Regions from separate parts of the Homo sapiens genome. Here region 2 is linked to region 1. Evidence: fine-mapped expression QTL. A gene starts in region 1. The other region holds a variant in brackets. All regions are shown on one strand. Distances are between the middles of the regions. Region 1 holds the start of DCP2 (decapping mRNA 2). Region 2 overlaps DCP2 (decapping mRNA 2).

Region 1 (5,331 bases):
TAAAATGCATAAAAAATATTGGAAACAAAAAATAAAGATCACAATCTCATAATCCCACTATTGGTTGATGTGCGTCTAGTCATTAACCCACATACACATATCAAATTCAGTTTCTTTTTCCTTTTTTTTTTTTTATTTGGGACAAGAAACTAAATGCCTTTTCAGTGGTTCATTTGAATCTACCATACTTCAAAAATTATAAATCTACCATCACCAAAGAAGTACAGCGCCATTTGTATTAGTTGCAAAATTAGGCTATTTACTTTTCTGTATGTACTTTTGTGAGGTTTAAAACGTTAGGCTTATTACTTCTCCTTGGTATGAGAGAAAAAGCACAGGCACTGGAAAGAAAAAGGAATAGGTGTGAAATCTTGATTTTGTGAATTAGGATGAATGTGACCTTATGTAAATTACAAAGTTCCTGAATCTGTTTGCGCAGATGAAAATGGAAATATACTAACTGCACCTACCAAACACGGCTGACTGAGGATTAAATAAAACAATACATGTAAAGGTAGTGCCTGGTGCACAGTAGAAACTCCAGGCCGGGCGCGATGGCTCACGCCTGTAATCCCAGCACTTTGGGAGGCCGAGGCGGGTGGATCACGAGGTCAGAAGTTCGAGACCAGCACGGCCAAGATGGTGAAATCCCGTCTCTACTAAAAATACAAAAATTAGCCGGGTGTGGTGGCGGGTGCCTGTAATCCCAGCTGCTAGGGAGGCTGAGGCAGAGACTCGTTTGAATCCGGAAGGCAGAGGTTGCAGTGAGCCAAGACCGCACCACTGCACACCAGCCTGGGCAAAAGAAAGAGGCTCCGTCTCAAAAAATAAAAACAAAAAAACAAACAAACAAAAAAAACCCCAAAAAACTCCACAAACACCAGTTCTTTACTTTCCATTAAAAAAAACTGCATGAAGGAGATACAACTACTAAAAGCCTGCCTTTTAAAACATAAACACAGTAACTGTGAACGAAAAGGTGTTATCACTTGTAATCACAATCCACACACACTTGGCGACAACTCCGGGTATCACTGCACTCCAAATTTTACCTTCGGAAAATAAGCATTTTTAAGTATCCTACACGTGTTTGGCTATCTGAAATCAGAGTTGACAAGGGGGAAGAATGCAGAAAATTTCTCATCTGAAGTATACACCCTGAGTTAAAACCCCGCGGTTGAGAATTTCCTTTAAAATAGGATTATTAAGGATAAAAAGAAAAGCAGCGCTACACTTTTTCCCTCTCTCCCCCAAAGACAAGTCCAGGGATGAGAAAAAAAAAGTAATTCCTTACAGGAATTTACAGAGAACGCCACGGACAAATAACACGCAGGCGTCAGAATAAGTCCGAAAATTTGCTCCTTGCGCAGGTCCGCGTACCTGGGATCCTAAGCCTTAAATTACTACCCTGGGGGTCTTCCTTCAGAATCGGGGAATGAGACACAGGGAGGAGGGGGTGCACGGCGTGGAAAAGTCACAGAGGCAGAAAAAACAATGGGAGAGGGAGGCGGCGGCGGCGGCAAAACGCTAAGACCCAGGCTCCGGCGAAGCGGCTACGCCTGCGGGAAAGCAAAATAGTTGAGTAACTTAAAAAATGAGGAAATTCCGGGTGTTCTGCGGGGAAGGACGGAGGGCCTTGAGAAACAGGGAGGCTGCGGCGGAAAGAGGGGCGGTGTCGTCGGAGAGCAGGGTCGACGATGGAAAGCGAGCAGCGGCGGGAGCGGAAAGCGAGGACATGGACGTGGGCGGGGAAGAAGACCCAGAGGCCTCTGGGGGTCCGCGAAACTGAGAAAACCCGACGGGGGCGAAAGGGGGTCGGGTAGCGCGGTACCTGCAGAGATCGTCCAGGACGCTGCCGGGAATCTCCACCCGTTTGGTCTCCATGATGAGGACCCACAGCAGGAACAGTGCATCCCGGCTCCGCGCGGCCGGGGACTGACGGTACGGCACTAGGACTCCGGCTCGCCGGAGAGCTGGCAGCCGAGGAAGCCGCGGCAGAGACGACTCCAACGGAGACGAGAAGGGGAAGGGGCGGGACCCGCTCACTTCCGTCCCGCTCCCTCAGCCTTGGACCCCAAGACTGGGCCAAGGCTCGGGGCGGAGCCCCCGGAGTCACGCCCCTGCTCGCTTGAAAGGCCCAATGGGAAGCTGAAGAATTGGGACTCTAAGCACTCTAAGCCAATGAGACGTTTGTTTATTGGTCTGCTACTTCCAATCCGTCTTCAAGCTGCTCAGTTGCTACTCAGAAAACCAACTTCCCGCCGCCTTTGAGGTGGCTACACGCATGCGCACCATGCCTCCTGCGCGCTTCTGGGAAGTTCAGAGGGGTCGGGGCTTAGGTGTAGACCCCGGACACATATCCGGGACTTTGGCATGTTGTGCAGGACCTCGCGGTGACTGAGCTCTTTCCTCTGCAGGGCCGACCCTGAGAATCCGTACAACACAAGAGTATGCTCGCGATTCCTGTCACCAAGTATCTTGCACTTATCGCAGCCCCCACCAACTCCAGGCCAAGAGCTGTGCCTCTTTCACTACAAACCCTTGGAGAGGGTATCCATTTTGGAGGTGGCTCTCCTCTGTGCTTCCTTAGGCACCTGGTTCCAAACATGAAGACAAGGACTTTATCTCAGTATCTGGCACCTAGCAAAATCTTAGAAAATACTGATTTAAGCTGAACTCTGATCTGTATTCCACCCTCTGCACAAAGCAATCCCCACCTGCTCGTCCTTATTCATTCCTCGTCTTGCTTAATGGAGACCAATCCATTTGGGATCTTTGGAGAAACTAGATCCATCTGTTCTTTTTCCTCTTACATCAGACCCACAGGCCCACACACACCTGCTCCGTCACAAGTTTAGTCTGTTCTACCATTTAATCTCCCATCTTTTGTCTAAATTTGTCACATGCCACTGTGTACTTCAGTTTTGCATCATTTCTCCATACTACAGTGAGAGCTGCCTAACCACTGACTCTGCCTCCATTCTTGGCCTGTGCAACTGCCTACATTTTGTTTTGTTTTACTCAGATAGGAACAAGTTATCTTTTCAGTTTCTGCTGTATGATCAAGCCCAAGTTCCTTTGGCATAAGAGGCCCGTCACCATCTATTTTGCTCCCGTTTTCCATCTTTTTTTTCCCCTCTTTCTTGGAGAATTCCTCAAATTTATCTTCCTGACAACTACAGAGTTTTTACTTATTTAGAGTTCTGTTTTGTTCTTCAAATGCCCCTTTCTTGTGGTGTCACATTCTTGCTTTGTATATTTTATTTTATCCTTCTGAGGATATTAATAATAGATTTTGACGTTTTCTTCTCCCTGAGTAGTCTTATTCCTCTCAGCTGCTTTTTGCTATTATCTTGATCTCATCTATCCTATTAGAAGCCTCTGTAGTCCTTGACTATTCACTCACACTTAAGAGTAAGGCCTTAACCTGGAGTCAAGTGCCTTGAAAGCTAATTGGAAGCTCTCACCTTGTAGATGGTACTTGTTTCCTGAGAGCTTCACTGTAGGATGATCTGGCTGAGCTGTTGGTTGGAAACACATGGTATCAGTATCTGTACGTAATTCTTTCTGCTGATGAAATTCCCTAAAGAGAAAATGCTTCCAGGCACAGCTTCATGTATTCTGGGAGTCCAGTACAGAAGCACAGGCTGCAGTATTCCATTTGCTTTATTCAGTACTCCCAGCACAGTCCAAGTCTTATTTTAGATTTCCTAAGAAGCAGGCACTGAGACAAGATTTTGAGTGCAGATAGCCTGTGAGGGAGGTGATCTTGGGAAACATTGGTAGGAGAGCAGGAAAGTGAGTCAAGGAGGGGAGGAAAGCCAAAAGGTTTATTATCAAGGAAATTAGCACTGTGGTTAACTGGAGCTTACTGTCACTGGAGAACTCTGGTGGCCAGTATAAAACATATACCTCAGAGTTATCCCACTCAAGGGGTGAGGGAGATGGGGATTTATATACCAACTTCCTTCATTGGTTGAAGGCAGCTCCTGGGGTCTGCACTCTAGCCTGCTACATGGGCAGCAAGATGGGCTCTGGTGGCCAGAAAAAGTCCTACGGCAAAGAAATGCAGATACTAGCAGTTGGACCTCCAGCCAGTGTAGTGGATGGATTGGTAAAGGTAAGAGTGAGCCCCTTCAGTTCTATTTTGCTGGGTGTGCATTCTACCTGTTCTGACTGAATGTCTTTTCTCTGACTGGGAGGCACCATAGTGGTTTTCTTAGTTGTCTCACTTAGAGCTCAAGTCTAGTTTTTAGAGTATTCTAAATGATGGCAGTGGAACAACAGTTCAAGGCAAAGTGGTGCTCACCCACATGGGCCAATGGTATATTAATAGAAACAAGCAGGTTACCAAGCACTTGCTGAAGCACCTGGAGGAATTCTTCTTACTAGCTTTCTAGTCTCCCAGTTTAGGGGCAGCTATACAACCCCTTTTGGGCTCTTAGAGGCCAGGAAGTCCCCAAACTCTCACATGGTGTTAAACCAATCTGCCTTATTAAGAGTTTCTGAGATGTCTGTGGTCCAAGATATTATCTTGCCCATGCCCCATCCCTCCACTGCCTCCTCACACACAGATTTCCAGGAGCTGGACTAGTGCAACCCTTATAGCAGCCCCCCAAGCCATGACTTCCAAAGAAGCCAACTGTATGGTAGAGGCACCTGACAGCAGTAACGTAAGCAGACCCAGGGGAATGACCCTGTGTGGCAGACAACCTGAATGAGTTTGCAGTTACAACCAAGATTCATTCCTTATCTATGAGGAACATCTGAGCCCTGTGGAATGCAGGCTGCACAGGAGGGCTAGGCCCTTTGTTTTGGGCTAAATGAAAGTTGTCAGGTGGAAGCTGTTAGGGAGAGGGTGCAAAATGAAAATGCTATATAAACTGCATGCTTTCTGCAGGTGATGTTGTTCTCATGTCCAGCTCACCTCTAGTGGACCGCTCTGTATGCAAGTTCCTCTCAATAAACCATATGCCTCATTTGCTGGCTCTGGGTCTCTTCTTCAGCCTCTTGAACCTAGTGCCATCCCTGTTAAAGTGAATAGGGACACCAAGGCCTCAATTCCATCTAATTGTTCACAGGACCCAGCTGAGAATGACAAAGGGGAGCTTAGAGTTGAGGTAACAGGAGAACAGGAGATGCTAGGGTTCTTAAATTATAATACTGATTTGATTTTTAAATAATTAGGTTGATTAAAACCTTTATAGTTTTAAAATATGCTATTTCATTTAGTCTTTTTTTTGGAACAAGATCCCACTCTGTTGCCCAGGCTGGAGTGCAGTGGCATAGCTCACTCCTGGGCTCAGTCTCCCACCTCACCCTCCCAAGTAG
Region 2 (5,379 bases), 45 kb before region 1:
ATAACATATCAAGATGACTATTAAAAAATAAACATCTCTGAAAGTGTCCTTTCCTCCATAAGGCTTTAAACAATTTGCAAATTCTTAATTGGGAGTATGTCCCAATCATTCTATTAAACTATTTACAGCTCTACCTACTTCTAGATTCAGCAAACAGAGCTACTAGTTAGAGTATTTTGAGAGCCAAAATAGTAAGAGACTTCTGTAATGGTTGAGATTTCTGCACTGACCTTAATTAGGGTACCGCCATAGGGCTACCAAAGTTTTTAGTGAGGGCTGGGGAGGTGGAGCATAAGTAACATTTTTTTTCTGCAGAAGGTGATGGCTTTGTAGAACACTATAAAATTTTTCAGGAAAACATACAGCAAATTTTCTTATCCAGTGGGAACAGCCTATTTGACAAGGAATGATATACAAGTTTGATTCACCTTTGAGCACTCTTATAGAGTTTACAGAAGAGGCGTAACTGGTTACAAAACAAAAGTTACGCCTTCACTATCCAGTTCTTAAAGTTTATCCACATCCTACAAATCTTATGTTCATGTAGGTCAGGTTAAAGTAAGCTCCAAACTTGTGGCCTTCAGAAGCATCTCCTGTTTAACACACCTGAAATTACTCTAACTTAATACATTTGTATTCTCTAAGAAATAATGCTGACTGCTGTCACCACAGCATCACTGATCTCTCAGTGGCTGTTAAAATATAAACAAGTGGAAAAAAAGTATACAAGTTGATAGCAGCTGTTCATGTATTCTTGTTTTGCTAATACCTGTGTAGAGAAAGACAGTTTCACATGCAGATCACCATACATTTTTGCTTAAAGGTTACACTGGGTAAACTGTTTGTTTATCACATTACATCTGGGTGAGATTTTGCATGTGACCAAGAGGAAGAAATCATTCAGTCCCGGAAATAGCAACTGCTATGTAAAACCACATCCTTGACTAGTACTTCATCTTTCCACAGTCATCCATCTGCTAATCAGGTGAAATATCAGCTCAGCAGAACAAAGCAAGTTATACACAAATTTCCCCCACATTCACACTGATGCCGTACTTAGTAATTCTGGTTCTACCATTCCCTTTTGCACTTTTTGCAAGTCAAATTCATGTGGAAAAATGTTCTGTTTGTAGAACTCATAGTATTCACTTATAGTGCTCATGTCAGGAATGGCAAGTGAGTAAGAGCCCCTGATAATCTGCTTTTGTTAGAACGTAATGCAAAGATAATAAAACATGTCCACTTCTTTTCTAGTTCTAATCAGTTTTTAGACATCAAGATTTATTTACTTTGCATGAGATTTGTTTCCTATTATTTGAATATGTGCTATACACTTGAATTAGAAAAACCTGCTTGAATGTATTGTCAGTTATTAAAGCACATGTGACTAAGTTTGCATTTGTCAGTATTGTTCTACTGTTTGTACTGAAAGTCTCATTTTAAAATTGCTACTTAACACTGTACTATACCTTGTAATTTTTTAGATTCTCCACTTGTATTCTTTAAATGTTTCCAGATGCCTTTAGTTTTAGCTGCTGTAAAATAGCTACTTTGCGTTATTTGATATAGAATTGTTTTTTAAAAACTCCATTTATTTATACAGAGACATTTATAATATTTTACAAACATTCTTATATTCTGAATAAATATTTCTAATTCCACAGTGTACCTTAACTGTGTTATTTAAAGGGTAAGGCTATCCTTCTGTAGAACTGTGATATACATGCAGGCAAATATCAAATCCATGATGCTTACATGAAATCAAGAGCCCTAGTCAAAGCAGGGGTCTAGAAGTAAGACTATTATTAGATCAAAATGGCCAAAGAACCCTCATTTATAGCCCATTTTTAGTTGGCTTTTTAAAATTTGGCATAAATAGGAAGTTATCTATTGAAGAGAGTCTTTTCCCCTCTTAAAGAAAGATCATTAAAATGGAATGTAATCAAGGACTGGAAATGCAAGGAAGTCATATAGGACAACAAGATGGCAAGCAGCTTTGCAACACATCTGTTAGAGAAAGATTACAATGTTCTCAAGTTTTCACTATGGAAGCAAAGTAA[CT/T]TTGACAGTAAGTATAACACCTTAGTCACTCTCCTTTTGAGAATTTAAAATAAAAGTTACTATCATATAGCTGAGGTCTCTAATGGAAAAGAATGTATTTCTTTCCCCCTTGAGATCCAAAGTTAAGTATTCCTATTGCAAAACCTGATTCTAGCACAAACTTAAGAATTGCTGGATTTTAAATATCTAATGAATTCACATCTCAAGCCCTACACTATAATCTTGCTTTAAAGCAACAAACTTAATTGTTTGAGGTATTTTCATTTTTGCAGAGACTCTCGACAATATTTCTTCCTGGGGGTTTTTTTTTTTTTTTTTTGGTTGTTTTTTGTTTTTTCCAGACAGAGTCTTGCTCTGTTCACCCAGGCTGGAGTGCAGTGGTGTGATCTCAGCTCACTGCGACCTCTGCCTCCCGGGGTCAAGAGATTCTCCTGCCTCAGCCTCCCAAGTAGCTGGGACTACAGACACGCACCACCACGCCCAGCTAATTTTTGAATTTTTAGTTTCACCATGTTGGTCAGGCTGGTCTCGAACTCCTGACCTCGTGATCCACCCAACTCAGCCTCCCAAAGTGCTGGGATTACAGGTATGAGCACCGCGCCCAGCTTCTTCCTGTTATATAAACATACTTTTATCATGTTCATCTCATACTTGCCATTTTTATTGGTCCAAAGAGCAACCACAATGAGCAACTCAGAACCTACGATGATAAATAACAGTAGCAGAAAACCAGGCTAAGGTGGTAACTAAAACCGCCCAAGCAGCCAATTTTATTGATAGTACATTACAAACAATCTAACACAATGATGTTTTTACAGAAAGCCAGTATCTGAACAACCTTCCATCGTTCAAATTGTATTTTGTAAGATTAAAAGGCTTTTAGTTTCTAACCTATTATTTACATCAAAAAGCTTTCAAAAAGTTAGAGCATAACTGTTAAGACATAGGATTTTGTTCATTTTCTCAGTGGAGAGTACAGAGTACAGCTGACATTCTAGTGGGTCTTTGGAAGTACAGTAATCCTGCAAACATTTAAACTCCAATTCACAAACATGAATCACCGGAAATCCTTTGATAGTCATACCCAACAATACAGGTAGTCTTTATCCTTTCGTTAACACTGAGGGAAAAAAACAGTTGCTGTTCAACTACAACAACATAAATCTAGAAACAGAATGAAACCTGTTCCAAATGTTTCTGTTCTTATAACAAGGTGAACACTACAGGTGTTTTGGGGTTCCTTTTCTGCTATCAGTAAATGTTTGACAATTTCCAAAAGAGCACCAAGAACTGTATACCACCATGAACAGAATCCCTTGAAGTAGATTCACTTATAGTCTTTCTCCAAGCATTAAAATGCCCTATAAGGTAAAACAAAACATTGCTATAATCTAGGCAAAAATTAAAGGTTGAATCATTTCACATAAGATAAAAATAATTACTAAAGAAATAAAGTTCACAAATCTACTTGGTTATCACATTTACTCTAAAGTCTGGTTTTTTCATTGACCATAATATATTTAGTGAAACATTTCCTCAGTTTTTGTCTACCAGCAAAAGGTCTCAAAATAATTTGCTTAACATAACTCAGCATAAATATCTTCACCTTTTTCCGACTAAAACTTACTCCCAAACAAATTGTTTTAAGACTATGTATCCTCCATTAACATCTTTAAAGCATAATGTAAAAAGCCACATCAAGTCTTCTTTTGGAAATAGGCACAGTATTAAAAAGTCAAGTCTTACCACTTTCCCATCCAAACTAATCTGTATGCCCTATTTCGGTTAGACAAAAGGCAATCTTATTAAGAGAACTTCACTTAAAAATGCTAATGCATGAACTGTAATTCCGTTTATTTTATTCTGAAATGAGATGGTTTTAAATTTTTATTAAAGCTAACAGATAAAAGTCTGAATTGTACATGGATCTAGGATAAGTCAATAATTACCAAGGATGATTTTTTAAAAGTACTATAAGGTATTAAGCTAATAAGCAAACTTCAAAACAATTATTTTTTAAAAACAGACATAAAGCAAAATAGTTCATGGTTTTATTGTCCTTCCCTGTTTTTGTTACTGAAGAAAAAGTTTCTAATATTTGTAAAATGGAAGTCAGGTTAGCTGTCTCCTGTCCTAACTCTAAAGTGAAATATGACCAAAGAACTTTAAGACTCATTTCTTTGGACACTTGCATTTAACATTAAATGATTACTTGTGCAACATCCTAACACAAACCTAAAAGGAACCAAAGAGACAGCAGTCCCCTAGAACAGTAGTGAAATGCACAAAGAAACTCTTAGCAGTATGTCTTCTGTGCTTTTCTGTCAGTGCGTATCATATGTATAGTGCATAAAGAATACAAGTCTACTGTTATATATTCCAAAAGCACTAACCCATCTAATCAACCAACTGCTGAAGAATTATCTTTCTAAATTTCATTCACAGTTGAGAACCTTTACTTTCATTTGCTGCCATCCATAGTCTTTTCCTAAGTATCACAAAAGGATATGCCTGCCAATCTCTTAAAAAATGACAATGCAGACTTGTGCTCAAAATGAAGCTACAGATTTAGAACCTCAGATTCAATGAACTAAAAGGAGAATATATTAAATGTTAAATTTGACCTCAGAAATTCCACTATACTAAGGATGTTGCCTAAGACCTCTCAAAGACTGAGGACCAGCAGAACACTGCCCATTTCACTCTAGAACCACACACAAGTCTGTTGTTCCCAAGCCAATGTGAAAGCTATAAGCCTTGAGACTCAAAAGAGCACAGGTGTCCACAGGTGACCCAAACATCAAAAGTGAGATCACCTTCTCAGGAAGGAAAGATAAAATCACTGCTTGCAAGTCTGTGGCAGGTTTGCTATAAAGATGTGAAACAAATTTTAAAATATGGATTATTCTACAGAAGGGGTAAGACACCAGGGAGAAAAAAAGGACTCAATGGACTTTTTCCTGGCCAGTCACACCAAGAAAAAGGATTAAGAAACAACAGGTCTTCAAATGGCACTGAACGAACAGTAGCCAATAACCCAAAAACCACCCAACCACCTGCAGGAAACCTTCCACCAAAAAGCAGAAAACACATATTCAGGGCCATTGTCTTCTACTGGACTAAAAGACTGAAGTCTACTAAAGGTTAGGGTCCATGTGGGACAAGATTACAAACACAGCCAACTGATTTCTGCATTCACTCTTCAGAGTACCTTTGACCAATACTACCCAGCTAACGTAAGCACCTTGTGAAAGCTCATTCCTTTTACGTTGTGCCTTCAAGCTGCTAACATAGCTAGACCATACTCCTCTGCTAACC

Evidence for each region. PIP is the estimated chance that this variant, and not a neighbour inherited with it, causes the effect. A credible set is the group of variants that fine-mapping cannot tell apart.
Region 2: its variant is the best candidate, but not a certain one, in a credible set for the expression of DCP2 in lung (TOPMed, PIP 0.75).

Annotation. Positions count from the first base shown.
Region 1 is chr5:112,973,487-112,978,817 of GRCh38, reverse strand. DCP2 (decapping mRNA 2) reads right to left here and starts at 2,020. Exons shown (of 11, transcript NM_152624.6): 1 at 1,832-2,020. The coding sequence starts at 1,884. It overlaps LOC105379126 (a long non-coding RNA gene), which reads left to right and starts at 4,033. Exons shown (of 2, transcript XR_948679.3): 1 at 4,033-4,120. RefSeq lists enhancers at 1,570-1,679, 1,790-1,839, 1,850-1,939, 2,010-2,059, 1,595-2,354 and 2 more.
Region 2 is chr5:113,018,388-113,023,766 of GRCh38, reverse strand. DCP2 (decapping mRNA 2) reads right to left here. Exons shown (of 11, transcript NM_152624.6): 11 at 1,572-5,379. MCC (MCC regulator of Wnt signaling pathway) reads left to right here. Exons shown (of 19, transcript NM_001085377.2): 19 at 1-1,661. Among named protein-coding and RNA genes, the nearest start is that of DCP2, 44 kb to the right of the region's middle. The variant CT/T (reference allele first, on the strand shown) is at 2,061.